Regions from separate parts of the Homo sapiens genome. Here regions 1 and 2 are each linked to region 3. Evidence: fine-mapped expression QTL. A gene starts in region 3. Each other region holds a variant in brackets. All regions are shown on one strand. Distances are from middle to middle.

What was found.
Region 1: its variant is fine-mapped to the expression of MAILR in whole blood (GTEx, PIP 0.98).
Region 2: its variant is fine-mapped to the expression of MAILR in whole blood (TOPMed, PIP above 0.99).

Annotation. Positions count from the first base shown.
Region 1 is chr8:102,579,402-102,589,742 of GRCh38, reverse strand. No RefSeq gene overlaps it. Among named protein-coding and RNA genes, the nearest start is that of ODF1, 33 kb to the right of the region's middle. RefSeq lists enhancers at 3,509-3,738, 5,619-6,118. The variant T/C (reference allele first, on the strand shown) is at 3,813.
Region 2 is chr8:103,063,528-103,073,429 of GRCh38, reverse strand. ATP6V1C1 (ATPase H+ transporting V1 subunit C1) reads right to left here. Exons shown (of 13, transcript NM_001695.5): 11 at 8,619-8,716; 12 at 6,983-7,109; 13 at 379-4,778. The coding sequence ends at 4,683. Among named protein-coding and RNA genes, the nearest start is that of ATP6V1C1, 47 kb to the right of the region's middle. The variant TC/C (reference allele first, on the strand shown) is at 6,450.
Region 3 is chr8:102,859,371-102,869,711 of GRCh38, reverse strand. MAILR (macrophage interferon regulatory lncRNA) reads right to left here and starts at 5,441. Exons shown (of 3, transcript NR_126339.1): 1 at 5,089-5,441. AZIN1 (antizyme inhibitor 1) reads left to right here and starts at 5,549. Exons shown (of 12, transcript NM_148174.4): 1 at 5,549-5,905. RefSeq lists enhancers at 4,471-5,203, 6,672-7,405 and silencers at 5,083-5,432, 6,093-6,322.

The DNA of each region.
Region 1 (10,341 bases), 280 kb after region 3:
ATCTCTCTGAACCTCAGTTCCTTCTTTTGAAAAACAAGGATATCAAGAGCTCACAGAGCAGTGGTGAGGATTAAATAAAATGGCATTCCAAATACATCAGGCATCTAATCAATACCTGCTCTTCCGCTAAGCAGGGCCCCCAGACTGGCTCTTGAATGGCACTTACCGTTCAAAGGAATCCTGAGAAACGGTGTTAGGGCCACTGCCACGTGGAAAAAAAAGTAAAGCAGAATTCCCTGTCTCCTCCCTCCGGAATAAATATAGATAGATCAAAGATTTCACTTATTTTCTTGGAGTAGGGAAGGCCTTCCTGAGCATGATTAGAAATCCAGAAACCACGAAGGAAAAGAATAGCCAATCTGATACATATAGATTAAAAATATCTGGGAGAGAAATAGACAGAGTAAGAGATAAATGGCAATTTAGGAAAAACATTTGCAACCTTATTCTACGGGCTAATTTCTTTAATAAATAAGAAATTCCTATCATTCAGTAAGAAAAAGGCTAATAACCAAATTGAAATGGCCAAAGGCTGCAAATAGGCAGTTCCCAGGGCAGAAAATACAAATGGCTTTTAAACATTGAAAAGATGCCCAAGCCTGCTCAGAATAAAATAAATGCAAATTAAAACTACAATTAGATAGCAATTTAAAGTCTTTCAGATTGGTACAGACCAAAAAATTCTGGTAAGACTTTTAGTGAAGGCAGAGAAAACAGATCCTTTCATATATTGTTGATGAGAGTGGAAATTGATTCACTCTTTCTAGAAAGCAATTTGGTAATTCTGTCAAAATCTAAATTTCAGGCCGGGCGCAGGTGGCTCATGCCTGTAATCCCAGCACTTTGGGAGGCTGAGGTGGGCAGATCACTTTGGCCCAGGAGTTCAAGACCAGCCTGGGCAACATGGCAATACCTTGTCTCTACTAAAAATACAAAAAATTAGCCAGGTGTGGTGTCACAAACTTGTAGACCCAGCTACTTGGGATGCTGAGGTGGGAGGATCACTGGAGCTCAGGAAGTTGAGGCTGTAGTGAGCTATGATCGCTCCTGCTCCACTGCACTACAGCCCAGGCAACAGAGTCAGACTCTGCCTACAAAAAAAAAAAAAAAAAAAAAAAATCTAAATCTTGTATACCCTTTGGTTTGGCAATGCCACTTTAGGAATTTATTCTGTAGATATATGTACAATTTTTTGCAATGATTAGAAGCAATTTGAATATCCATGAATAGAGGAGTGGTTAATTAAATTAGGATAACACCATAAAATAAATACAAGGTCAACCTTGTATGTGATAATATAAAAAAGCTTACCACGTGGAAAACCATGAGAACAGTGTATAGGTACTATGCATTCTTGTTTGTATTTTGAATGAATAAGTAGTATCATTCCCGTTTTACAGATGAAGAAAGTGAAGCTCAGAGGAGTGAAGTCGTGTGCTTGGGTCATCACATAGCCAGTAGTTAGATAACTGAGTCTGCAGAGAGCACAGGGATGTCTGTCTCTCTGGTAATAAAATCCAGATTTATAATACCATGCTCAAGAGCCTTCAGTAGCCTAAGAATCAAAGGATTTTCCTACCCTGGTTTCTACTTCTTCTCTTCATATACCCTTCCTCAAACTAAATTGAACTGATCCCCATCCCTCTATGTCTTTGTTCATGCTGCTCAGAGATCTGGATGAGCTAGATCCAATGCTACCTCCTCCAGGAAGCCCTCATTGGTTCTCCAGACAAAATTAACCTTAGCCTCCTCTAAACCCTTGAGCATTTTATCCCTTTTATAGAAATTTTTGGAGGGTGAGTCCTAGAGGGAGTGTAAGAGAGGAAGGGAGGAAAGGAATTAACATTTATTTTGGGCCTACTATGTGTCCAGCGCAATGCAGTGCCTTCACTCAAGTCTTCTTGTCTAGTATTTTAAGTATTATGATCAAACCATAGGTCGTTGGGGGCATGATCTATGTCTAATTGATCTGTGCATCTCCCCAAAGGCCTGGCCCAGCTCCATTCATTCAATGAATGACTGCATTCAACAACTTTTGAGATTCTACAACACATCAGGTAACAGTGTGTGGTGCCAAGGATACCAAGATGAATGGGGCAGGGTCTCAGCCCTCAGCATCTGTCTAGCTGGGAGGCCAACCACGTGACCCAATAAATCCTAATTGAACATTGTGCCAAGGTAGCGGGGAAGAGATTTGTTGGATGGTGGATAAATGAATGTGTGCACCTCATCTGAGGCCTGCCTTCACTAGCAAACTTGCACCATTAATCACCAATTTTACTCTTAAAATGTTGCTGATGGGTCTCATTCTGAGACTACCCTCATACACAGCTCTAGGATTACAAAGGTCTCCCTCTCACATTGTCTCTAGAACTGCACTGTCCAGTACCATAGCCACTGGTTACGTGTGGCCTTTTAAATTCAAATTAATAGCAACCAAACATAATTTAAAATTCAGTTTCTTAGCTGTACTAGCCAACAACCATGTAGGACAGGCATCCATGGACCTCCAGAGTCTCAAGAAGTGCTCAGTAGCCATAAATGACTACCGTGTTGGATGTTGGATGTGCAGATATAGGACATTTCCACCATGGCAGAAAATTCTATTTCACAGTGCTGAGCTAGAGCCTCCAAACCCCAGGCCTGGGCTCTCCTCTGCCTGCTTCCTTGGTGTCCTGACAGAGCTCACGGGGGGGCTCTGCACTTCAGTGTCCTCCTCTCCGAAGGCAAAAAATGTTCCTTAAAGAGTTGGGAGGCAACACTGACTTTCTCTCTCTTTTTTCCTTACTTTTTAATTTTTTTTTTAGTTTTTAGAGACAGTATGTCCCTATGTCACCCAGGCTGATCTCAAACTCCTGATCTCAAGAGATCTTCCCATCCCTGCCTCCCATCCCAAGTAGCTGGGACTACAGGCATGTGCCACCATGCCTGGCAGCACTGCCCTTCTCTACATTCAAATCATGCAAAGTTGGTGAGGTTATACATGCCATGAGAACCCACACTACATCACGACCCTGGTGACTCGGTGTTGGGCAAACTCTGGAGTCACTGACTGGTTTGACTTTCCTACCGTGCATATGCATTTGGTCTGTACTGATCATGGAATAAACACCACTCTCTTAAAAAGAAAATCATAACAAGTATAGTCACAGTTAACCATAGCCGTTTCCCTGAAAGGGGGTGGAGGTGGTGGGGGGCAGTCTGTGGCAGGATGCAGGGTCCCTGGGGACTCTCCCACAAGAGGGAGCACCCCCTCTACTTAGAGTCTTCCCCAACCCTTCCTATCCCACCATGATAGGCAGCAGATACAGACTCACACATGGAGGGCTTGTCGGCAACCCATCTGGATGGCACAGTGAACATGGGACATGAGACCACCGAGGACATTCAGCCCTCATGGCATGCCCATGTTGGTACAGCAAGGTGAGGGGCACCCTTGGGCCACAGGCCTCCTTCCTTCCTCTCTCAGTACCCAGGCACAAGGCAAGAGTGGCTTCCGCGTTAGCTTCCTTTGAGGGGCCAGCCCTCCTACCATCCCCGCTGGGGCCTCTTGGGTGCTGCCTGGAGTCAGGGGGTCTCCTGCAGCTGCTGGTAACCTGCCTGTTCTCCTGCCTGGGAGTGGGGTTGGGGAGCAGAAGGAACTGCCCCATGGGAAGTAATTTTCCTGTCTCCCTCTCCTGCCTGGCCTGGAGACTTCTCGCCTCTTCTGCTGACCCTGGAGGTGGGTGGATGCCTGTTCTGTGGGGTGTTGGCCCAGCAGTTTCTACCTGGCAAGGAGACCAGAGACAGCCACTAGAGGGTAGCGAACACCC[T/C]CCTTCTAATCCTGAATAAAGTGTGTGAGAAGTACAGCTCCGAGGGCGCTTGCTGCACCCCATCCCCGCAGAAGCAAAAACAAAACAGAAAACATTTCAGAGAGAAATTAACACAAACTATATTTTCATGTTTTACATTCATTTCCAGATAGATATGAATCAAAAGAAATCCCCCAGGAAATCAAACAAGAAACCTCTCAAAGCAAGATATTCAGTGTCCCTTTATTATCGTGAGATTTATATTAATAAATTCCTCTAATAATGTGCTCTCCAGAGCCCCGGCAATCTAATTAACATTGTGATGTAATACTGTTTGTTCTTGAGGAGGTATTTTACAAAGGAAAGACCAAAATGCAGGTTTCTCTTGCTCCCTTGGCACTCAGCAGTCTCTTTTATTATATTTGTCACATGGATTAAGAACTAAATTTAGAAATGAAATGAAAATGAAAATGCAATTCCTGCCTGAGCTTAGTTCTTGACAATTATCTATGTTGTCTCTGCCCTTCCGCAGGGAAAGCAGAATCACTTTGCAGTCAAGCTAGAGTCATGCAAACCGACGCTCCCTAGCGGTGGCACCAAAGCTGAAAGGTTGACGTAACCTTTCAGCTTTCACATGGCAAGTTGGGGTTTACTTATCAACAGAACTGAAGCATCCCCCAACTGCTTTCCTGCCAGCCTCTCTGCTGTTACTGTGTGTTCCTATACATTATTTTTCATCTCCAACGTGTTTACGTGTCTTTAGAGAGAAGTAAATTCCATTTCTTTTTATGACGTTGATCCATTTTTAATCAACAGGCAAAACAAAACAATTTCTGTGTTGTGTGAATCCCAGTAGCTAGGTTTCACCGTGACATTTTCACAACAGTCCTGCAAAGTATTTATTATTCTCCCTATTTTGTAGATGAAGAAATGGGCACTCAGGGAGGAGAAACATCTCGGCCAAAGCCACACAACTATTCCCGGGTGAAGTCTGGATTGCGTTGCTCTTCCCTCTGGTGAACTCCTGAGGGCAGGAAGGTGTTGGGTAAGTCTCTAAAACCCCACAGCACCTGGCTGGCACATCAAAGCCCTCAGAACCTGCAGAGTCTGAAAGAAGAGGGTGTGACCATATGGAAACAGGGAGAAAGATCTAGAAATCACCAGAGCCCTGTGAGTGCACTGCGGGCTGGTGGATAGAATTCATGGTCTATGGGATCATTACTGCCCTTTTGACTGCTGATTTTGTAACTGCAGGACCAGCCCAAATTGGGCCTACTCTGTTGATAACAGAATGTCAAGTTACCTTGTAGGCATAACAGAGCCAAGACTGCAAGTCATGCAGCCCAGGCATGCACAAAAGAAAAAGCTTTGACCTCTAATGACACCTGGAACACATGACTCCTGCCTGTGGAACCAAGAAGACTGGGACATGAGTGGAACTTGACCACAGGAACTCTTTCAGAAGCAAGGGGTCCGTTGGAAGGAAGATCCAGGACTATAATCCACCCCAACATACCTTACCATAAATGGGCCAATCTGAAGCCCTCCAATCAGACCCTGCCAATCCATCATTCCCGAATCTTTTCCTTTGCCCTCTGACCCCTTAAAACTTGCCCCAGACCCCAAATCAAGGAGACAGACTTGAGCCTATCTCTTTGCTGCCTGGCTACACGATAAAGCCTTTCTTTTCTTAAAAGCTGTGGCCACAGTACTGGCTACCATGAGCATCGGGCAGCAAGCCCATTGGCTCAATAACATTTTTACTTTGCAATTCTTAGCTCAGGCCCAGTCCCAGAGATTGAAGCCTACAAGGAGCTGAGACACGGTGGGAGCAGGGAGGGAGGAGAAGGTGATCCAGGGACTTACCAGGATATGATATATCATCGTAGGTATGACTGAGTACATGCCTACTTTTGTCTGTGGAGGTTGACAGAATTATTTTATTTCATGCTCTCAAAACACAGCAAGACCACATCCTTTGCTATAGTTAAGAAAAGGAAGCCTCAGAGATGTTTGTTATTCATCCAAGGAGCAAGAAAATCTTTTTTTAGCCCCCTTTATAAACATATTTCCCAATTTTAAATATATATGTATTTTTAAGTGAATGAGAAGCAAAGAACTGGAGCATGTGGGGACTTCCTGTGGAGTTTTACTGAGAACTGTGGCTGAATGCAGCAAGGGGTTGAGGAAGGATTTGTCTTGTTTTGGTTTTGCTTGGTAAAGGAAGGAAGCATCAGGTTTTCATGCTGCTGGGAATGATCTAACAGAGAGAGAGAGCGAAAATGATGAGACAGGAGAGGGAGGGCAGTCTTAGGGCCTGTAGCTCTGGGAGAAGCAGAGGAGACAGAACAGAGGCCTTGGCAAGGCTGAGGGCATCAGGGGCCCCTTCATGTGAAGCCAGTGGAATGCAGGGGCTTGCAGGAAGCCAGCTTTTTCTTCCTCCCCACTGCCTTTTCACCCATGGTGTGGGCTGCTTCCTCTCTGGCTGAGTGAGGTCTTTTTTTTTTTTTTTTGAGACAGAGTCTTGCCGTGTCACCCAGGCTGGAGTGCAGTGGTGCAATCTCAGCTTACTGCAAGCTCCGCCTCCCGGGTTCACGCCATTCTCCTGCCTCAGCCTCCCGAGTAGCTGGGACTACAGGCGCCCACCACCATGCCCGGCTAATTTTTTGTATTTTTAGTAGAGACGGGGTTTCACCGTGTTAGCCACGTTGGTCTTGATCTCCTGACTTCGTGATCTGCCCGCCTTGGCCTCCCAAAGTGCTGGGATTACAGGCGTGAGCCACTGTGCCTGGCCCTGCCTCCCAGGTTCTAAGTGACAGCACCATGCCCGGCTAATTTTGTATTTTTAGTAGAGACAGGGTTTTACCATGTTGGCCAGACTGGTCTCGAACTCCTGACCTCAGGTGATCCACTCACCTCGGCCTCCCAAAGTGCTGGGATTACAGGCGTGAGCCACCGCACCGAGCCTTGTCCGTATGAGGTCTAGGGCAGATTCTACAGCTTTTCAGCTTATTTTGGGTAAAAACAAACAAACAAACAAACAAACAAAAAAGTCCAGTCCAGACTGACAAGGAAATCCCGAATCCTGGTTCAATTTGAAAGCTCTTCCCTCCTCAGCTTGGAACGGCCTTGTACACAGTGAAAGAGGAAATGTGGCTACCTCTCTCTCTCCCTTCGCTCCCCTCTCCCATCCACTAGCTGCTGGCTTGGGGTTGTGCGGGTGGAAGGGAGGTGGCTGACGGGCAGGAAAGGCGTTTCTTGAATCCCTACAGTCCTTACTTGGCATGGGGCAGATGCACCATCCCTGATTCTTCAAGAACCATTTGGGTGAGTGCTTCAGAGCCTCCCATCGCTGGGCATTGGCCCCCAGTTTCTTGCTCACAATCATACAAGTCAAGTGTGAGCCATGGGCCAGCAGCATTGCATCACTTGTTGGAATAGAGATGCCAGGTGCGGCGACATGTACCTGTAGTCCCAGCTACTGGGGAGGCTGAGGCAGAAGGATAGCTTGAGCCTAGAGTTCAAGACCAGTCTGGATGACATAGCAAGACCCTATCTCAAAATAAAAACAGCAAAGAAATGGAGACTCTTAGGCTCACCCACCCCTGTTGAGTGAGGATCTGCATTTCCACAAGCCCCCCAGGAGTGTGACGCACAGTCAGGTCTAAAGCTCTGCCTCACACTCCCAGAGCCAGAGCCTTACAGTCACACACAGGCAACTCAACTTACATAGCTCTGCATACAATGGAATAAAATAGAACCTTGTGAAAGACAGTGATAGTTAACATCCAGGCCGTGCAGCTCCCTAAGAAGACAGAGTCACCAAAAGGCAAAGGGCAAGTAAGGCTGACATCTGGAAGCCCAGGCCAGCCAGCAGCCCGCCTGCATCTTGAAGGGGTAAGATAGAAAAATATTTTTACATATTATATAATATTTTATTTAAAAAGTTGTAAAAAATACATAAATATAAAAAAGATAGTGATATTGACTGGGGGCTGGTGGCTCATGCCTGTAATCCCAACACTTTGGGAGGTGAGGTTGGAGGATCGTTTGAATCGAGAAGTTCAAGACCAACCTGGGCAGCATAGCGAGACCTCTTCTCTACAAAAAAAATACAACAGTTAGTGGGCGTGGTGGCACGTGCCTGTAGTCCCAGCTACTTGGGAGGTCGAGGTGGGAGAAACACTTGAGTGTCCCTCTTCACTGGGTCAAACAGCTCCAGAAAGCTCTTTCACCCATGTCCCTTTCAAGGGCCCCCAAATCCAGCCTCCTCCTGCCAGTGTCCACCTGGATCCTGGGAAACAGGCTTGCCCCTTGCCCTCTCACTCTCATCAGGCTCTGCTGCCTGACGGAGTCACCCCGAGGCAGAACCTCTCCCTTTTAGAGTTTCCCAGGGAGACAGGTACCAGCCCTGTTCCTCCAAACCTCAGGGAACACACTTCAGATACTCTATGTGTTCTCTCAACACTTCCCGCACTAGTTGAGGTGATGTGGAAGCACTCCTTCCAGCCCAGTGGGGTGTGGGATGGGTGAGATGGGGCAGGAGTAGCCTGGCTCAGCAGACCCACATCTCTTTTCAAAGAAATCCTTACTACTGGCTGCTTCTATGGCCCAGGGAAGCCATAGCCTTCTCATGCCTCAGCCATAGAGGATGAGACGATTTCACAGCCTCTCAGAGTCTTGCCTAGGTGCTTGTTTTGGTTATTGATTGCTGTGTACCAAACTACCCCAGTCTCAGTGCTTAAAACAACAAACATTTACAGCTGGGTATGGTGGCGCCTGCCTGAAGTGCCAGCTATTTGGGAAGCTGAGGTGGGAGGATCACTTGAGCCCAGGGTTTCGAGGCTAGCCTGGGCAACATAGCCAGACCCTGTCTCTTAAAAAAAAAAAAAATTAACATAAAAATGGCAAACTTGTATTATCTCTCAGTTCCTGTGTGCTATGAACTGAATTGTGCCCCCTCCCAGATTCCTATACTAAAGCCCTAACCCTCCAGAACCTTAGAAAGTGATTGTATTTGGGGATTCTGCCTTGAAAGAGGTGATTAAGGTTAAATCAGGTCATAAGGGTAGGCCTCTAATCCAATAGGACTGGTGTCCTTATAAGAAGATAAGGAGACATCAGGAATGCGCATGGAGAAAAGCCCACATGAGGACACAGCAAGAAGACAGCCACCCGCCAGCCAAGCAGAGAGGCCCCAGGAGACACCAAACTCCCTGACACCTTCATCTTGGAACCCAGCCTACAGAACTGTGAGAAAACAGCCAGGCACGGTGGCTCATGCCTGTAATCCCAGCACTTTGGGAGGCCAAGCTGGGTGGATCATGAGGTCAGGAGTTCAAGACCGGCCTGGCCAAGATGGTGAAACCCCGTCTCTACTAAAAATACAAAAATTAGCCAGGCGTGGTGGTGGGTGCTTGTAATCCCAGCTACACTGGAGGCTTAGGCAGAGAATTGCTTGAACCCGGGAGGCAGAGGTTGCAGTGAGCCGAGATCACGCCACTGCACTCCAGCCAGGGCAACAGAGCAAGACTCCGTCTCAAAAAAAAAAAAAAATGTACTGTGAGAAAATAAAGGTCTGGCACTTTGGGAGGCCAAGGCAGGTGGATTGCTTCAGAATAAGAGTTTGAGATCAGCCTGACCAACATGGTGAAACCCCATCTCTACTAAAAATACAAAAAATTAGCTGGGCATGGTGGCGTGCACCTGTAGTCCCAGCTACCTGGGAGGTTGAGGCAGGAGAATTGCTTTAACCCAGGAGGCAGAGGTTGCAGTGAGCCAAGATCACACCACTTCACTCTAGCCTGGGTGACAGAGCCAGACTGTCTCAAAAAGAAAAGAAAAGAAAAGAAATGTCTTTTGTTTAAGCCACCAAGTCTGTGGTATTTTGTTATGGCAGCCCTAGCAAAGGAATACACTGTGGGGCAGCAAAGCAATCCAGGCACAGCTGATCTGGGCACCTTAGGCTCAGGCTCTCCCAAAGCTGCAATCGCAATGTCTCCTGGGCTGCAATCATCTCAAGGCTCCATGGGGAAAGGATCTTCTTCCAAGCTCTCTCTCGTGGCTGTGGGCAGGCCTCAGGTCCTCACTGACTGTTGGCTGGAGACATCAGCCCTTTGCCATGTGGGCATCTCCATAGGGCAGTTCACAGCATGGCAGCCAGCTGCTCTTGGGGAGAGTGAGGAGTGGGGTGAGGGGGGTCCTAACAGAAGCACAGTCTTTTTATAACCTAATCTCATAGTGGCATCCATCACTTTTGCAATATGCTGTTTATTAGAAGTGAATCAGGCCGGCGAGGTGGCTCACGCCTGTAATCCCAGCACTTTGGGAGGCCTAGGTAGGTGGATCTCAAGGTCAGGAGTTCGAGACCAGCCTGGCGAATATGGTGAAACCCCATCTCTACAAAAAACACAAAAATTAGCCAGGTGTGGTGGTGGTGGGTGCCTGTAGTCCCAGCTACTTGGGAGGCTAAGGCAAGAGAATTGCTTGAACCCAGGAGGTGGAGGTTGCAGTGAGTCAAGATAGTACCACTGCACTCCAGCCTGGATAA
Region 2 (9,902 bases), 200 kb before region 3:
TCAACTTGATATTCTATGGCCTTCCAAGGGCAAAAGACATCTTTATTGATCAATTTCTGCTGAGACAGAACTCTCCAGTTCTACTGATTTAACGACGTGGAATATTTCTTCAAGTGACAGTAGAAAAAGCTGATTTACCCATGATGATTCTATTAAGTGTGGTCTCTGTCAATAGAGAAGAATCACTATTTGAATGAGACCTCAAGATGCTTACAAATTCTAAATCAACACCCCAATCTGAGGGTTCAGAGGAAGAATCATTAAAAGGTAGTATCCGATTACAACTAACCCCTAGCCTCTGATTCTCCTGGGTATTTGTTTAAAATGTAGGTTATTCCTTGGATCTACTTAAGACTTTAAACCACATCTCTCTGGAGCTTGGTAATGAGCATTTTTATTAAATTCCCCAAGTACAAGCCCCGGTGTACACAATAAGCAATTTCAGTTTTGAGTAACTGCCAGGGAAGGAATGTCCCCCTTTCTGTTTGTTGACTGCCTTCTGATTTGTTTGAAAGCTTTTTTCTTCTTGCATTATCTTGACCATTCCTGGTATGAAGGATGTTGTCTTGTTTCTCCTCAGTTTCATCTTCTGCAGAAGAAGAAACCATGCCAGGCGGCAGTCTCTTACTGTTCATGGCTTCCATGGCTTTACTCTGTTCCCTTTTTCTCTCACAAGTCATCAGCTCAGATCTAAAAATACTCTAAGGGTAAATCCACTGGTGAATAAAATGGTTCCAATGTGCCATATTCCTTTCTTTAGAAAGCAAGAATTACCTCCATATATGAATCTAAAGAATCAATTGTTATCTATGCTAGAAAAATAAAGACCATTAATAAGTGCAATATTGAAATGGGTGAACATCAATTTAGAGACAAGTACTAAACTAGCAAAGTTTTTGCTAGGTTTCCTCCAGAACATAATACCATTTATAGACCTTCTAGGACAAACCATCTTTTATTGACATTAACAGAAGAAGATAATCACATTTTTTATAAAGGCAGGCAAGGTTTTCATTATAAGCTGTTCTATAGTATTTGTATATGTGGTTTTTAACCTTGTGCATATGCTACTTTGATTTCTTCGACAGCTGAGAATGAAGGAGAAAAACCTCATATCTAGATCAATGTCTTATATTTTATTTCCAACATTTTGGACTAATTTTGAAGTAAGAGCAAATAAAGTTTCACATTTGCTGAGTATTTGTTATGTACAAAGTGTTACTTTAAAGGTACTACTGGATATGCACTCATTCAAAAAGCTGGAATATGTTCCACAAAGATTGGTTCCACAAATATCTTTTGTTCCACGAAGATTTCAAAGTGTGGAATGTGTTCCACAAAGATTTTCTGCTGAAGAGCAACTTCAGCAGGGTAGTAAAGAGGTAGAAAAATCTCCTAGGTTGAATAACTGAGGCTACTGAAATTGGCATGCAAACAACTAGACACATTATCTAACCCATCATAGATGAAATGTTCTGGACTCTGGGTTCCTGCCAAATATAATAGCAACACAGGCCAGGCGTGGTGGCTTATGCCTGTAACACCAGCACTTTGGGAGGCTGAGGCGGGAGGATCCCTTGAGCTCAGGAGTTCGAGACCAGCCCGGGCAACATAGTGAGACCTCATCTGTGCTAAAATTTAAAAAATTGGCCAGGCGTGGTAGCACGCACCTGTAGGCCCAGCTACTTGGGGGCTGAGGTGGGAGGATTGCTTGAGCCCAGGAAATCGAGGGTGAGGCTGCAGTAAGCCCTGATCATGCCACTGCACTCTAGCCTGGGTGACAGAGCAAGACCTTGTCTCAAAAACAAAACAAAACAAAACAAAACAAAAATAGCAACACAAGTTAACATCTGATTCTCCATACCGAATATCTTTCCTATACCATTGTCCATCTCGGACTCAGGTTAAGCAATGTGTCTGGCTCATTCACACAACAGTTGAGTGTGGGGCGGGAAGTGTGACAACCAGCAGTCAAAAATCTTAGGTTCAAATTCTGACTGGCTCAAGATTTGTGACTCAACAAAGAATTCACTTAACTTCTTTCACCTGAAGTCTCCATACATGAAAATGGGGACCGCCAGTACTCCCTCCATGAACAACACGGGGAGGGGCCGGGAGGATGATGTGGATGTGAATGATCCCTGACAGACACTCAGTAAATGTTTAATGAGTCTGTTATCTAAGCACTATCCTCAAGGAGAACCAGCAGACTCCTCGGGAAGGTAAGTGGCTTGGGACAGTCCCTTTCCAGGAATGGTGACCGCCACCAACAATATCAATAATCCAGCACAGACTGGAGCTCAGTGACACAAACTGCTCTGTTGTTATGTTAGACACAATGACTTCCTTCTAACCCTCAGACTCTACAATGATGTGGATCTGGATTTTCCCAAATTAAACACAGTGAAAAGGAACTACCTGTGTTCCCCAAGGGCTAAGTACCTGCATCAACCTCTCACCATGCACCACTCGCAGCACTTTCTGTGCACGTGGGGTCACACTGACTCACCCCAACATCCCTAATGCGGTGGGCACTCTAATCATGCCCATTTTACAGAGGAGGGACTGGAACTCGGAGACCACTCTGCCCAGGACCACACAGCTCGTCAGCAGCAGAGCTGGGGCCTGGCCTCAGAGCACATGCTCAGCCACTCTGCTATAATTTCTCTGGTGGAAATCACAGTGAAAGTCCCGTCGTTTCAGACATATGCTGGGATTCTAAACCTTATGCAGTCTGTACCTACTCTCATGAGAACAACAGTAAAGTCTAAATAAAACCTTAAAAGTCACTGTGTGGCTGAGCTTCAGGTTAGTGACATGTTTTTCTTAAAAGTCAATTTAATGTCAAAACATGCCCCCCCATGATAGAGAGAGTAGCGCCACGTTACAGATACTAAGACTCAAAGAACATGTGCAAAAGACAAAGAACCAAAATTTTCTGATAGCAAAATCTTTCACAGCTTCCTCTTGTCCAAAGAAAAACTGAAGATAAATCCACACTCCAAACATGTCTTTAGTTTAGAATTCTGACAGATGACTTGGCAGTGAGTGTCAAAAACTTAAGTGTACATAACCTATGACCCTACAAATTCCACTTCTCAGATCTTACAGAAATACTAATACAAGTATACAAAGAAATCTGTGCAAGGATGCTGACTGCAGCAGTGTTTGTTAAGAGCAAAAACTAAAAACAAGCAGACTATCCATCCACTCGGCTAAACACATGATGACAGACACTCAATGGAACGCCACGCAGCCAGTTAAAAGAATGAGGTAGCTCCAGCTTCACTGACACAAAGGATTCTCTTAGATATACTCTTAAGCAAAAAAGCAAGTGACAGGATGTGTGTGGTATAATCCTATTTTATTAAAAATAAACTGTGTGTGTGTATACGTGTGTGTGTGTGAGACAGAGATGTAAAGACATAGAAAAGGGCCTAGAAAAATACATAAACTTCCCTTGGGAGGTGGAAATTGAGGGAGGGGGTCTCTCATGTTCTACATTGTGGATGTCTGTATTTGCTTGAAATTATTTATGAAATAATATAATATTTTGAAACAAAAGATTTTGGAGGCTAATTTTCTAAAGGGAATAGCATAGCTTAGATATGCCCCTAAACTGAAATGTAAACTTTTTTCCCATTTGCAAACCTGTGAGTACGTAGTAAGAGAAACATTGCCACAAAATCCTCTTTTAAAAGCTCTTTCAGGACACTAAATTAAGTCATTCATTTCTGAGATTTTAAAGGCCAACAATGTCTCTATTTTCAGACTATGTCACAAATGACATAAATGCCAAAATTATAGATCTTAAGAAGACAACACATAAAATACAGACTTAGACAAAACAAATGACTAAAGCTGCATAGTTCTGCTAGACTTTATTCAAAACTGGCTCTATTCTTAATTATTTGAGAGACCTAAAATTCTAGTGTTCAAATGTAAATACCCATCATATACTGAAAAGTCATCTTCAAATTTGTGTTCTGACCCAAATTTGGCTCAATTAAATCATACGAAAGTCAGACAACACAAATGGTTACACCTCAGCATATAACAAAATCCTGGAAGCAGCATAGCAAGTGAGCTATGACATCATTTAACTCTCAAACAGAACTGTAATCTTAAGTTACACACACCACAATACACCTTTGCACAGGTAATTTTATTCTCTCCTGTGGGTGTTGACAGTGCTCATTGATTGAAATTTGAAACGTTCAGAAATCCCATACCTGAAGATGGTCACATATTCTTTACATCATGATTCAGTAACTATTCAACAGTTATGTCTACTAAATACAGTGAACAAAACAGTATAAATGTTTACACCATTCCCCTGTGAACAGGGCTTTTGTGCACAATAGTAACAAATGGAATTAATGCATACCATGATATCAATAAGGAAGAGACCTTCTCTTTAAATAAACTATTTTGTTTATAAATAAACTCTGATTTTTTTAGTACACATTTACAGACCTGATCAATAAAAAGAAACTATATATATATATTTTTTCCTTTAAAAAGAAAATGTTGAGATACAGACCACTGTGGGAGAATTCACCTAGGAAAGGGCGTAAGAAGCAAGCAAAGGATACTAGAGTTAAAAGTACGACCATACTGCAACTTATTTCTGTTAGCACACACAAACACAAGGACAGGATTGTCGGGGGAGGAGCCCATTTTCACTTGAATTCCAGCAAGTTGCAATCAATCTTGTAGTACACATAGGGGTAGTATTCTTGTTGACTCAGGTTTAAACCTGGAATATCCATAGGAGCCTATGGAAAAAACAGACAATTATTCAATTTTGTATTTACAGAACTCAAAAAAAGAAAGCAAGTATTAACATTTACCTTTTTATTGAACATCTACTCTGGGCTAAATGTATGCACTTAAGGCTAATTTATCTGAGTTAGACATTATTCCCATTTTGCAAATGAGAAAACAATCTCTGAAAGACTGACTTCTCCTAGGAAACACAGACAGTGAGTGGTAAAGCCAGGTTCAAGCATTCTGACTGCATATGTATTTAGCATGATCCCACCAACCTTTTTTATGTATACTGTAAAAATTAACTTTTTAAATCTTGGACTTAGAATACTGAGTTGATGGGATACAAGACTTACAAAATATGGAGTAAAAATAAAGCAAGTATGATTTATAAGTAATACTTATTCTGTAATATCAGCACTTTGAGAGGCCAAGGCCTTGAGCCCAGGAGTTCAAGACCAGTCTGGGCAACATAGTGAGACTCTATCGCTACAAAAAATAAAAATAAAAACATTAACCAGCAGTGGTACTGCGTGCCTATAGTCCCAACTACTTGGAAGGCTGAGGTGGGAGGATCACTTGAGCATAGAGGTTGAGGCTGCAGTGAGCCAAAACCATGCCACTGCATTCTAGCCTGAGCAACAGAGCCAAAAAACAAGCAAGGATAACACTTATTATAAATGCATGTTATAAGAATTTACTGCTAGAACATTTATGTATCAAATAATTATACCTCTCATTTTATCCACAATTGCATGAAAGTGGAGCAAGTTGGCCGGGGGCAAGGTGGCTCACGCCTGTAATCTTAGCACTTTGGGAGGCCGAGGTGGGCGGATCACCTGAGGTCAGGAGTTCAAGACCAGCCTGGCCAACATGGTGAAACCGCAGCTCTACTAAAAATACAAAAATTAGCCAGGCATAATCCCAGCTACTCAGGAGGCTGAGGCAGGAGAACTGCCTGAACCCAGGAGGCAGAGACTGCAGTGAGCCAAGATCACGCCACTTCACTCCAGCCTGGGCAAAAGAGCGAAACTCCATCTCGAAAAAAAAAAAAAAAAAAAGAAAAAGAAAAAAAGTGTAGCAAGTCATTTCCCGCATTTCCTTCTATCAAGAAAAACTGATTTTTCATAGTTCTAATTAATGCCTATGTGAGATGCTACCATCTACCCTAAACTTTTAAAGAGAAAAAAAAAAATCAGCAAGATATTTAAAACCAGAAATATAAAGTAAAAGCCCACTACAATTTTTTTTTTTTTTTTTTTTGGGACGGAGTCTCCCTCTGTCACCCAGGCTGGAGTGCAGTGGCGCAATCTTGGCTCACTGCAACCACCCCCCGAGGTTCAAGCGATTCTCCTGCCTCAGGCTCCCGAGTAGCTGGGATTATAGGTGACCGCTGCCACGCCCAGCTAATTATTGTATTTCTAGTAGAGACGGGGTTTCACCATGTTGGCCAGGCCGGTCTCAAACTCCTGACTTAAGGTGATCCCCCCGCCTCGGCCTCCCAAAGTGCTGGGATTACAGGCGTGAGCCACCACGCCCAGCGGCCCACTACAATTTTAAACAGCAACAACAAAAAAACACAAGTAACTCTGTTTATATCTTCTTTTGTTTAAAAAATAACAGTTTTGTTTAAAAGAAGATATAAACACATAATACATTTTTTGGTCTGTTTTTTTTTT[TC/C]TTTTTTCAGATGGGATCTTACTATGTTACCCAGGTTGGTCTCGAAGGCCTGGGCTCAAGTGATCCTCCCGCCTCAGCCTCCTCAGTTGCTGGGACTACCAACATGTCCCACCACGCCCAGCTACGCCATTTTAGAAAAATGAACCTACCTTGAAAATACTCATCTATTGACTCTATCGCTTCTACCAAATAAAATTAAAATAACTGCTTATTTTCTTCCTCTCTGCAATTTATAGTTTTTGTAAATAACTAGTATCACTGGTTTCTGTATTTCTGCAGCTATAAACATCTGATACACAGCAAGATAATTACTAGCTTGTAGAAATGCCAAGAAGCAAAACACAGATATAATTAGTATAAAACAGGGTAAACAATGTAAATTACTATGTTTACATAACAAATTGAGAACCTCAAAGTAATAAAAAATGATTAAGTTTCATACTTACCCTCCCTTTTCTGTCTATCTTCTTTCAATCATTTTTTTTCTGAAATTCACTTCAATTCTTACTCTACTGGGCTAATAAGTACTTACATCAATAATAGCTGCTGCACTGCTGTCTAGATGTTTATACAATTCATGTAATACTTCTCTCAGTTTCTTCAAAGTTTTCTTATTGGGCTGAAGTAGCATTGCTTGGAAGTTCACTGGCAAGCCATACCTTACAAAAAAGCAGAAATACAGTACGCAATACAAGCAAACATGTAAAGAGATTTTCTTTTCAAAGCAAATATTCTCATACTCTTTAATCATGGTTAACGGGGAGAGAATATCTCCCTTTACCTTTACAAGTTCAACTAATATATATAGAAACTGAAACTAATATACACAAAAAACTTCAATATAAACAGAAACGCAAACCTTTGGTCCCCACTGTCCACTAGAAATCTCTACGCCAATTACTAGGAATTACTTCAATTACCATTCATTTTTTTTTTCTTTTGAGACGGATTCTTACTGTTGCCAGGCTGGAGTGCAGTGGTGCAATCCTGGCTCACTGCAATCTCCGCCTCCTGGGTTCAAGCCATTCTCCTGCCTCAGCCTCCTGAGTAGCTGGGATTACAGGCACATACCACCATGCCCAGCTGATTTTTCTATTTTTAGTAGAGACGGGGTTTCACCATGTTGGCCAGCATGGTCTCAATCTCTTGACCTCATGATCTGCCCGCCTTGGCCTCCCAAAGTGCTGGGACTACAGGCATGAGCCACCACGCCTGGCTTACCATTCAATTTTTAAGGTAATATATGAATATCCTCAGGAAATAAGAAGAAGTAAGGTCAGCAGATACTTTTATGGTAATAGCATGAGGTTACCCACATATAGTTTGAAAATTTGAAAAAATTTAAAAATAGTGAGCATGGTTACATGTAAGTTTTGGGGTGTTTTTTTGTTTGTTTTGTGTTTTGTTTTTTCAGGCGGAGTCTCGCTCTGTTGCCCAGGCTGGAGTGCAGTGGTGCAATAGTGCAGTGGCACAATCTCGGCTCACTGCAACCTCCACCTCCTGGGTTCAAGTGATTCTCTGCCTCAGTCTCCCAAGTAGCCAGCACTACAGGCGCGTGCCACCACACTTGGCTAATTTTTTTATATTTTTAGTAGAGACAGGATTTCACCCTGTTAGCCAGGATGGTCTCAATCGGACCTCGTGATCTGCCTGCCTCAGCCTCCCAAAGTGCTGGGATTACAGGCGTGAGCCACTGCACCCGGCCAAGTTTTGGGTTTTTTAAAACTATTTCTAATATGAGCAACCCATACATTGGACCAGAATATGATTTTTTAAATATCTCAAAATATTAAAATACTTTAGGTTAATATGAAATGATTTCAATAAGTCATTAGCATACTATGTATCCAATGACATATAAAACACCTGAAGGATCTTCCTTTTAAACAAATATTGGTTAATATTTAATCTACTTTTAAGTACCTACACAAGAAAAAGAACCTGAGGGTATGGCAGCATAAATCTCTTTTTCTAAACCTGGTGCTAAAGAACAAGACTAATATGCATTTTATAAGCTGTATGATGATACTGATAATCTCTGTCTCATGATTGGCCCTTTGATTTCTCCAAATCAATTTCCTATTGCTGGACTGTGTTATAATAAAGAGGTCCAATGTAAGGAATCTATGAACTCTTCAGTTCCAAGTTTGGCAATTAACTTGCTTTACCTTAAAACAGACTCAACGAAAACCCGTAATGCTTTCACGTGAATCCATGCAATAAATGCTTCACTAAAATTCACTTTCAGCCACCGTACAAGTGGTCCCTATAAAAAGAAAAAAAATTACCACAAATTTGGTCTTAGAAATAGCAATTAGATAGACCAAATATTTTTTTAAGTGACTACCTATTAGGAATCTATAGAAGAATTAAGTCGCATAATTCACTTTCTACATGTTTCACTATTATTCTCATTATCTCAGATACCTTATCTTAAATTAGATTAAAAGGTTCGCCACTACAGAGAGATCTCAACAGACACTAAAATGCATTGAACCAATTCACTAACACAGAAAAAGGTATATATTTTAATAAAAGTAGTTAAAATGGTACAAAATATAGAAATGCCTTAGGTTGGAAAATCAAAATATAAAGATCTGAATTTACTACACAACACTCTAAAACATTTAATACATGTAAAATGAAATTCAACTTACAAACAACTTCTTAGTAACAAAGATAAACAGTTATGTAGGCAAGTCATTTAACAGCACTAGCTCTTAGTTTTCCCATCTGTAAAAAAGGGAGTTGGTCTAGACATCTAAAACCTCTTTACATTCTAAATTGTATAGCGTTAAGTTCTTTTTAAACTTCAAATATTTAGTAGGATTAAGCGGATTTCAAATACCTCCTCTCTCCATACTTAAAAGATTCAGCTAACACTTCCTTGGATAACATTATTAGGCTCATTTGGATGTACCAAACAATTAATTTAAGCAAAAGGATAGCAAAACAAGTGAAAATCTTGTCAAAATATCTATTTTTTAAAAGGATTTTGGGTTTGCCCTAAAAAGCTGGTTATTTTGACATTACTTGGTTAGAATGAGTTTCCTCCTAGTTGAGATGATATGGCTTATAAAGTACTTGGAAATAATTTTCAATATTTCCCTTAATTTCCTCTTACATTATTAAGAGAAACACATTTTCACTCATTATGTTTCCCTTTCCAAACAAGCTTTTAGTCTTCACAGTAATCCCACACTTGAAGATGGCAAGAAAGTTAACACCATCTTTGATTTTCACAATTCCACTCGTTTCCCATTACACCTAGAACACACCAATTCTCCAATAGCTTAAATACAAATTGCTTCAATAAAAGATTGAGGCATTGAAAAAATCTGCCTCAAGAAAGTGAAAAGTCTTACTGAAAAGAACTTCGTTACTTAACTAAAATCACCCTTCACCTACAAGGATGTTAACCAGAATACTGCATTTAAAATTAATGTCTGATA
Region 3 (10,341 bases):
TCTAATTCATTCAATCTTTCATATCTATTGGCACAAAAGCATATAAGTTTGAATCAATGGACCTAGGTGATTTAAGTAGGAACAGTATTATATTATTTTATCTTAGGGCTCTATTTAATGATAATATTTTTGCTGGCACTACCTGCATATTTGTGTATGAGTAACCTGACTTGGCAAAATAACTAAAACCCCAAACACAGTTAAATATGCCATTCTCATTAGATAGCTATCCTTCCATTAAAGTTACACTATGTTGTCTATTCCAATGTAGTACAGTTTTCTTTTTGTTTTTTTGTTTTTTGAGATGGAGTATCACTCTTGTTGCCTAGGCTGGAACGCAATGGCGCAATCTCAGCTCACTGCAACTTCTGCCTCCCAGGTTCAAGTGATTCTCCTGCCTCAGCCTCCTGAGTAGCTGGCATTACAGGCATGACCACCATGCCCAGCTAATTTTGTATTTTTAGTAGGGACGGGGTTTCTCCATGTTGGTCAGGCTGGTCTTGAACGCCTCGGCCTCCCAAAGTGCTGGGATTACAGGCATGAGCCACCGTGCCCGGCCTACTGTGGTATAGTTTTCAAAGCACTATTGTATTCATGTAAAGCTAGCATTATTCTTTAAATCTGAATACAAAAATACTAATTGTGTGGGCACATACTTTTCATAATAAATGTTGTTGAGTTGCTTCATGGTGCAAATGATGTTGGCTTAGGCTCTAGTCCAGTATCATCTACTTAAAGAGAGGTCAACATTCACTGACTGCAAGTGCCCCTCACTCAACCCTTTACAACTTCCTGTTTCTCCTACTCTGCTGATATTACTCTGTTAAAGGTTACAGATAAAATTCTTTCCAGGCCCTTGCTATTCTCCATGAATGACTACAATGGCTTCACGTATGTTCTGCCTGCCAAAAACTTAAGAGTATTTTACGTTTCCAGCCCCACTTTCTCACCTTTTCTAAAATACAAATCATTTCCATGATTGAAGCCTTTTCCAACGCCTTTGGAATATAAACCCAAACTTTTTTTTTCTTTAAAGATCAACAACAGTTTATTAGTTACACATTCCCTCAGACAAGAAGAGGAAAGTAGTGTAAGCTATGCAGGCCCACACAGGGATTGCACTTGGGAGCAAAGAGAACAAACAGGGGACTGAGGAAGGTTTTGTAGTATCAAGAAGGTGAGATACGCTTGGTGTGGTGGCTCACACCTGTAATCCCAACACTTTGGGAGGTTGAGGTGGGAGGATCGCTTGAGCCCAGGAGTTCGAGATTAGCTCTGACAACATGGTGAAACCCCATGTCTACAAAAAATTTAAAAAAAAAATTAGGCATGGTGGTGCACACCCGTCATCCCAGCTATTCGAGAGGCTGAAGTGAGAGAATCGCTTGAGCCCAGGAGGTGGAGGTTGCAGTGAGCTATAATCATGCCACTGCACTCCAGCCTGGGAAACAGAGCGAGAGTCTTTTAGGAGAAAAAAAAAAAAAAGAAAGTGAGATGTGCCTTGAATTTCAAAACAAAATTTTATTGGTTCATCTGAATAATTCTGTGGGCTGGCAGGGAACTAAAACACATTATACTCCCAACTGTTAAGACTGCAATAATATACTATAATGCTACAATGCCATAATCTACTATATACAATAGTACTTAATACAGTACATCCTCATTTGATGTCATCCATAGGTTCTTGGAAACTGTAACTTTAAGTCAAACCATTAACCATATAACAAAACCAATTTTGCCAGAGACAAATTGATTTAAATAAGAGTTAGGGTCCTATGGCATATAGTTCCTATAGCATTGATAAAATCAGAATCCCCTTTCCAACCTGTTTGAGGATATGACAACCCTGATCACTCATCCCGTTTTGCGATAAGCACCCTCTTCCTTGAATAGCATAGCATTGCACTATTGTCATTTTCTTCGGCCTCTTGGTCTTCTCTGCGGCTGTCTTTTATCTCTGGCATTCTCTAGATCCTGTGCTTATACTCTTTTCTTCTATACCTCAATAATTCCTTAATTATCATGTCTGTAGGAAAGGCTCCCAAATTCACACCCAAAGGGTTCTAGATCTCCCCATTTTCAGAGGCCTCTGGACCATTTTTACCTGGCTATTTCTTCAACAGCTAAAACTCTGTATCACAGCAGCCTCAGGCCTGGTGTGATGGCTCATGCCTATAATCCCAGCATTTTGCGAGGCCTAAGTATGTGGATCACTTGAGTCCAGGAGGTCAAAACCAACCTGGGCAACATGGCAAGACCTGTCTTCACAAAAAATTAGCCAGGCATGGTGGTGCACCAGTAGTTCCAGCTACTCAGAGGCTGAGGTGGGATGATCACTTGGTCCCAGGAGGTGGAGGTTGCAGTGAGACGAGACTATGCCTCTCCACTTCAGCCTGAGCAACAGAGTGACACACTGTCACATACACACACAAAAGGCAAAAAAACCTAGCCTCATCTTACTCCCTCTTTTTTTTTTTTTTTTTTTTTTTTTGAGATGGAGTCTCGCTCTGTCGCCCAGGCTGGAGTGCAGTGGCACCATCTCGGCTCACTGCAAGCTACGCCTCCCAGGTTCATGCCATTCTCCTGCCTCAGCCTCCCAAGTAGCTGGGACTACAGGGCACATGCCACCATGCCCAGCTAATTTTTGTATTTTTAGTAGAGACGGGGTTTCGTCATGTTGGCCAGGGTGGTCTTGATCTCTTGACTTCGTGACCCGCCTGCCTCAGCCTCCCAAAGTGCTGGGATTACAGGCGTGAGCCACTGCTCCTGGCAGGGTCCTTCTATTTCTATCTCTGTTTATGGCTCCAGAATTCTCCCTGTTGATAAGCTTAATATCCCCAAATCACTTGACACCTTCTCATCTCCTTTGAAAGTCAAGATTATCTCTACTCTCTCTGTGCGTTTTCCCTCCCATCCATTCTGAATCCCCTTAGTACTTTCATTATTATTATTATTATTTGAGACAAAGTACATCTCTGTTGCACAGGCTGGAGTGCAGTGGTGCGATCTCAGCTCACTGCAACCTCTGCCTCCCGGGTTCAAGCAATTCTCCTGCCACCGCCTCCCAAGTAGCTGGGACTACATGCGTGTACCAGCACGCCTGGTTAATTTTTGTAGTTTTAGCAGAGACAGGGTTTTGCTATGTTGGGCAGACTGGTTTCAAACTACTGGCCTCAAGTGATCCGTCCGCCTCAGCCTCCCAAAGTGCTAGGCCACCACACCATCACTAGGCCACCAAGTGAGCAACCACGCCCGGCCCCCTTAGTACTAAAATAAATAAATAAGTAAACCAAAAGACCCCAGAAAACTGCTGTAAGAGTTTCCTTCACTTCCAAACTTTCTACCTCTTTTCAATCCCACCCACTGGTGCTGGAGTAATCTTTTAAAAAACATATTTTTGAGCATATCATGTTCCTGTTTATATGGTTCCAGAATAAAGTCCAAGTTCCAATTTTTTGTTTTGTTTTTTTTTTTTTTTTTGAGACGCAGTTTCACTCTTGTTGCCCAGACTGGAGAGTGCAATGGTGTGATCTCGGCTCACTGCAACTTCCGCCTCCCAGGTTCTAGAGATTCTCCTGCCTCAGCTTCCTGAGTAGCTGGATTACAGCCATGTGCCACCATGCCCAGCTAATTTTGTAGTTTTAGTAGAGCCGGGTTTTCTCCATGTTGGTCAGGCTGGTCTCGAATTCCCGACCTCAGGTAATCCGCCCTCCTCGGCCTCCCAAAGTGCTGGGAATACAGGTGTAAGCCACTGCGCCCAGCCTCCAATGTCTTCTTGATGTCACCCTAATCTACCGTTTCAATCTCATTTGCAACCATGCCCCTATGCTGGAACCAGAAAGGCTATTCACAATTCTCTAAACCCACCCACTTCTGTGCCTTCTCTCATCCGTTTCCCTTGCCTGGAACACTGGAACATCTACTCTCAAAATCACCAAACAGGCGAGTTTGGTGAAAAAGGAAGCACCTTTGTCTAGAAAGGCTTTTCTCAAAATCACTCTTTACCTTTCCCCAGCAGCCTTTCTCTCACTTAGCTGCAATCATCTCTTCCCTCCACTTGGTCCTTGCAGCATTTTATTTGTATCAGCCAACAATTTATTTTGTATTGCTGTCTTATTTCCCCTGCTAGATTGTAAGCAAGGTTTCAAATATTGTATTCATCTCTAGTTTTTCTTCCTCCACCAGAGAGGGTCTAGTGAATGGCTGTGTTTTCAAATGTTCTGAATAGAACAGAACTTTGAAGAAATAAAAGACAGAGCCAAGATATAGCCGAGCAAAATAAGGAAAAACAAAATCAGGAATGCGTCCACAGCTCCTGATTCTACCGAATACTCTCTCATACAGCCTCGCAAGATACCCTGCTTTTCCACACAGGAAGGTCGCTTTCTTCCTTTCACATTTGATGATTTATTAATCAACCACAGTGCTGCTCAAAGTACACAGAGGGTTCGGAAGAATGAAAGGGAAAAAAGTCAGGGTCTTAATATCAAAGATCTTAACTTCAGAGGGGTGTGTCAACACATATTCCATTTGTGCTATGTGTTGCGAAGCGTAGCAGCACGAGAGAACTCGGGGTCTCTGATCATGATCATTAGTGCTGAGGCATCTAAAAAAGATGAAAATAAATTAAAAGCTATGTAGGTAATCTTAGAACCCCTAGTAAAAAAAAGTCTGTTGTGGAGTAGAAAAATTAAAACGACCGCGAAAATGAGACCTAGGGGATTGAAGTAATGTGCGCTTGTAACATCAGTAATCCCCTCTCCAACGCGGGTCCTGCTTGGGACTGACTCCACCAATCCTTTTAAAAATGAAGACATAAAAGCCATATTCCTTTAAAAAATTTCCACTGCACCGTATTGCAACGTTCGAGCACTGAGGACATTTTCACGTGGTCACAACCCTTTTTAACACCCGGACACTGGGCCGGTCCTTTCTGGCCACGAGGAACTCGCTTCCCTAAAGGAGTACCGCATCACCGAGGGCGGGCGCCTCAGCCCGGGAGGACACTCCCCAGGGTAAACTACAGGCCTCACAAAGCGGAGGGAGCTGGACGCGAAGGCTCGGCAGCGGCGCCGACAGGCTTACCCCAGGCCCACTCTAGGCCGCACAGGGTTCGCGCCACCTCCGGCCCAGGACAGCTCTCAGACGCTGCCAGCGTGGAGCTCGACCCGGCTCACAATGCGCTGGGCCCCGCAGCGTGAGCGCAGGCGCCCGAGAGGCGGCGGGGGTCGGGCGGACGGCGCGCTCCAGCCGAGCCGCCTCCCTCTCTCGGCCCACACCCGCGCGGCCGCCCTTCGCCTGCCGGGGAGCTGCGGGTGGCTGGAGGGCGGGAAGCGACCGGCCAGTCTGCACCTGCATGACCCGGTCGCGCGCCGACCCCTCCCCTCTCTCTCCCGGGCTCAGTCCTCCTTCCTCTTCCGTCCCCCTCCCTTTTCTCCGGGCTGCAACCGGGTTCCGCCCCGCTCGCGCGGCTGCCCGGCCAGCTGTGATGTCACCAGGCCACGCCCCCTAATATAAATACTGGCGTCGCTGGCGCCGCCTTCTCACACTTTCAGGCTCTGATCGCGGCCGCAGTTTTTCCTTTTTTCTTCTGCCGTCGCCTTCTCTGCCTCTTCTCATCCTTTCTCGCTCTGCTGCTCTGCAGTGTGACGAGTCCGAATCCTCTTCCCACCCAGCCCGCGCCTTTCTTCTTTTGCCTGCGCTGTTCTATTTCTCCTTCGGCCGCCGCCGCCACTGCTGCACACAGCTGGTGTCGGTGCCGCGCTTTTACCCCCAAGTCGTTCCCGCAGCCTATGGCCCAGGCCGCCTTGGGTATTTCTGCTCAAGGTAACCACATCCCTCTTTAAAAATTCCGCCGAAAAAGAGAAGACGCTTTACCCGACTCTTTGGGCCGTTATCTCACGTGAGTACCGAGCCGAGGAGCGCGGGAGGGGCCAGGACGCGGGGCTGGCCTTGGGGGGCGGCTGGGGGGCTCCGGCTGGGCCCCGCCGCCCTTAAGACGTCCCCGCAGCGCCCCGCGGCCGGCCGCCTCGAACATGGCGGCGGCGGCTGTCTGTGCCCCCGGCGGCGGCGGCGGCGGCGGGGCTGGGCGGCGGGCCGCGCCTCAGGACCTTCGGGCGGCTGCTGGACGCTTGGCGGAGCCGGAGCCGCAGCAGTTGGGGCGAGGGGGCGTGTGCCAGTGGGGGAGCGCGCGGGGGTCTCGCCGCCGGGGGTCGCCGTCCCCTCCTGGCGGCGTGCGGCCCCCACCCCTCTCCCGTGGTGCATTGCTGTTTCCGGGGAGGGGGCCCGGCCGCAGCCCTGAGGGGCCGGGGTCCCGCAGCCCCTACTCCGCGGTGCGCCGCCGCCACCTTTGCCTCCCGAAGCCCGGCGGGCGGGCGGCGCTGTGGGCTGCAACGGCTGGGGTCCTGGTTATGAATGGAGCGGGGCGGGCCCCGCGCCGGCCTCTGGTGACAGCTGCGGAGGAAGTCGGATTCCTGGGGGGCGCGGGGAGCGCGGTCCCCCTCTGGTGGAGGAAAGTTGACGCCACTTGGGGCCTGGCGGCGGGGAAGCCCCGGTGTCAGGTAGCCAGCGAGAGGCTTTTGGCCCCTTCTGGAAGCCTCGAGGCTGCTGCTCCGCCCCTGCGGCGCTCCTGATTGGGTCAAGTCGCCTTCACTCACCCCAGTCACCTCCTGGAGCCTGAGGATTAGTCACCATGGCTTCGTTTTTCCGTCCGCGCCATGGTTCCTAGGCAGAAAGAGGGAGATTGGTAGACGGGTGGCTTATCAACTACTGTCTTGACTGCCAACAGTTGGTGGTGGTAACATGTTCTAACCCTTACACGGTATCCTGAATGTGTGTTTCGTAGACAAAGCTGCTGGTTCAGAAACCCGAAACAGTCGGGGACACAGTTTACCGCCTCATGTTTCAGCACATTTAACTGAATTTTGTGGTGGCATCTTGGTTATATTAGTTCTGTGTCCCGTCGTGTTTCTATCGTGAATTCCCAGACTGGGTGGGAATCTAAGGACTCAAAGGAGGGGGAATTGCCTTGTGCTCAGCGAAGGTTGATGTAGAGGTGCATCAAAGCACAAAGTAGAAGTACATCAAAGCACATCAAATACAGCAAGGGTTGGCAGAAACATGGCTCATGATTGTCTAGAAAGGCCCTCATAATTCATTAATTTCTTTTACATATACGAGAGCGTGCAGATGCTGATCATGATTAGAAATAAGCCCCAAGGAGTTTAGGAAAGACTCCAAAAGAAAATGATTATCGGTGGTGATAAGTGAGGTCGAGTAGTCAGTGCCTTTCTCCCCCAAGGTTTTATCACATACGTTTTCAAACAGAAGGTGAAAAAGAGTTATACTTCCACCTAGATTCTGTAATTAACATTTTACCTTATTTGTCGATGCATTTCAAAGTAAAGTTGGAGACCCCTCCAACTTTAGTATGTGCATATTAAATAGAGCTCAGTACCGCTTACTATTTTTTAAATCTTAGAGGGTAAAATTCACATCAGTATAAACCCACAAGTCTTAAGTATGCAATTTGATGAACGTTGACAAAAATACAGCTGTGTAACCTAAACCTTTTGTCAAGATGTAGAACATCGCCATCACCCTCAAAAGTTTTTTCTTGTCCTTTCAAATCGTCTTCCAGTCACCACAGAGCCAACCACGATCTTGGTTTTTTTTTTTTGGAGTCTAGCTCTGTCGCCCAGGCTGGAGTGCAGTGGCACAATCTCGGCTTACTGCAACCTCCGCTTCCCAGGTTCAAGCGATTCTCCTTCCTCAGCCTCCCGAGCAGCTGGGATTACAGGCGCCCACCACGCCCAGCTAATTTTTGTATTTTTAGTAGAAAAGGGGTTTCACTGTTGGTCAGGCTGGTCTGGAACTCCTGACCTCATGATCCGCCCATCTCGGCCTCCCAGAGTGCTGGGATTACAAGCGTGAGCCACTGCGCCCGGCTGATCTTGATTTTTTTTTTTAAACCCATAGATTATTTTCGTCTATTCCAGACTTTCCACATGAATGGAATCATACAGTATGCATTCTTTGGTATAAAAGGCTTCTTTTAACTCAGCACATTTTTAATATTCATCCCTGTTGTCTTTATCTGTAGATTATCAGTAGATTATTTGTGTTGCTGAGTAGTAGCCCATTAGGTGACTGTCCCTTGGTTGTTTTTTTTAAAAATAAACTTTATTAGGCCGGGCGCGGTGGCTCAAGCCTGTAATCCCAGCACTTTGGGAGGCTGAGGCGGGTGGATTGCCTGAGGTCAGGAGACCAGCCTGGCTAACATGCTGAAACTCCATCTCTACTAAAAATACAAAAATTAGCCGGGCGTGGTGGCTGGCTCCTGTAATCCCAGCTCCTCGGGAGGCTGAGTCAGGAGAATCGCTTGAACTGGGGAGGCAGAGGTTGCAGTGAGCCGAGATCTCACCAGGGCACTCCAGCCTGGGGGACAAGAGCAGCGGGACTTCATCTCAAAAAATAATAATAATAATGAAAAATAAACTTTATTTTGGAGTATCTTAGTTGCGCAGCAAAGTCACAAAGATACAGTTTCTTCATACTTCCCACCCAGTTATTAGTAACATCTTACGTTATTACAGTACATTTGTTAAAACTAAGAAACTGACTTTGGCACTATGAAACGTTCGAGACTTTTATTTGGATTTCGCCAATTTTTCTTTAATGTCTTTTTCTGTTCCAGAATCCAAGTTACCACATTGTATTTAGTTGTCATGTCTTCCCAGTTTTCTTTGGTTTGTGACAGTTTCTCAGTCTTCCTTTGTTTTTCATTACCATCACAGTCTAGAAAAGTGCTGCCAGATATCTGGTAGAATACTCCCCTCCCCTAAACTTGGGGTTTACCTGATGTTTTTCTCATGATTAGACTGGGGTTTGGAGTTTTTACAAAGAATACCACAGAACGATTTTAAAAATCATTGGTAAAGGCATTGTGTTTTCAGAGACGTACTGATAATTTTGAGATACTAAGTTTGTAATAGTTACTGTCAAAGTGATAGAAAGTTTTTGTAGTTGGGCACGGTGGTTTGCACCTGTAATCCCAGCACTTCGGAAGGCTGATGCAGGCGGATCACTTGAGCTCAGGAATTCAAGGCCAGCTTGAATTCCTATTTTATTTTTAAGAAAATAAAATAGGCCAGGCGTGGTGGCTCATGCCTGTAATCCCAGCACTTTGGGAGGTCGAGGTGGGTGGATCGCAAGGTCAGGAGTTCGAGACCAGCCTGGCCAATATGATGAAACCCCATCTCTACTAAAAATACAAAAAAATTAGCCGGGCATGGTGGCACATGCCTGTAATCCGAGCTACTCGGAAGGCTGAGGCAGGAGAATTGCTTGAATCTGAGAGGCAGAGGTTGCAGTGAGCCAAGATCGCGCCACTGCACTCCAGCCTGGGTGACAGAGCGAGACTCCGTCTCAAAAAAATAAAATAAAATAAATTACATAAAATGCTTCTTGTTTCTTACTGACCAACCGAGCCCTCTCTGTGCTATTCTCTAAGGTGTTAGAGAATTTGCAGTGTTTACATACACCATTCTAAGTGAAAATAATTTATTTTTTTCCATACTGCCTTTTCTCCGCATTTCCATTTAACAAGTCCTTCTTCATGCTTTTTTATCCTAACTGTCCGGATAAACATTCTATCTATCCTGTATGTAAGTGCTTATAAGAAGTGCTTATCTATCCTGTATGTGTTTATAAGAAGTGCTTATCCTATGCACCTTTTGGGTCTTGCTGTGTTGCCCAGGCTGGACTCAAATTCCTGGGCTCAAGCAGTCCTCCTGCCTTAACCTCCTCAGTAGTTGAGACTATAGGTGCATACTGTCACATCTGGCTCATTTTTTCTTTTCTTTTCTTTTTTTGGAGACAGGTTCTCCCTCTGTTGCCTGGGCTGGAGTACAGTGGCACAATCTCGGCTCACTGCAACCTCCGCCTCTTGAGTTCAAGCAATTCTTGTGCCTCAGGCTCCTGAGTAGCTGGGATTACAGGTGTGCACCGCCATGCCCAGCTGATTTTTGTATTTTTAGTAGAAGATGGGATTTCACTGTGTTGACCAGACTGATCTTGAACTCCTGGCCTCAAGTGATCCACTGGCTCAGAGCCACTGCGCCTAGCCCTATTTTTTGTATTTAAATAATGCCTTTCAAATTCTAGAGCCTTCATTCCCTACTAGTATCTTTTTGTTAAATGGAAATGTTGTAGGGTTCTCACTGAGGAACATTCTGGAATGTCTGACGTTTAATGTCCATAATGTTTCACATCATTGCTCTTGGGTTGCATTAAGCAGCAAAATAGCTGTGGATATATGTATTGAGAAAAAGATGAATA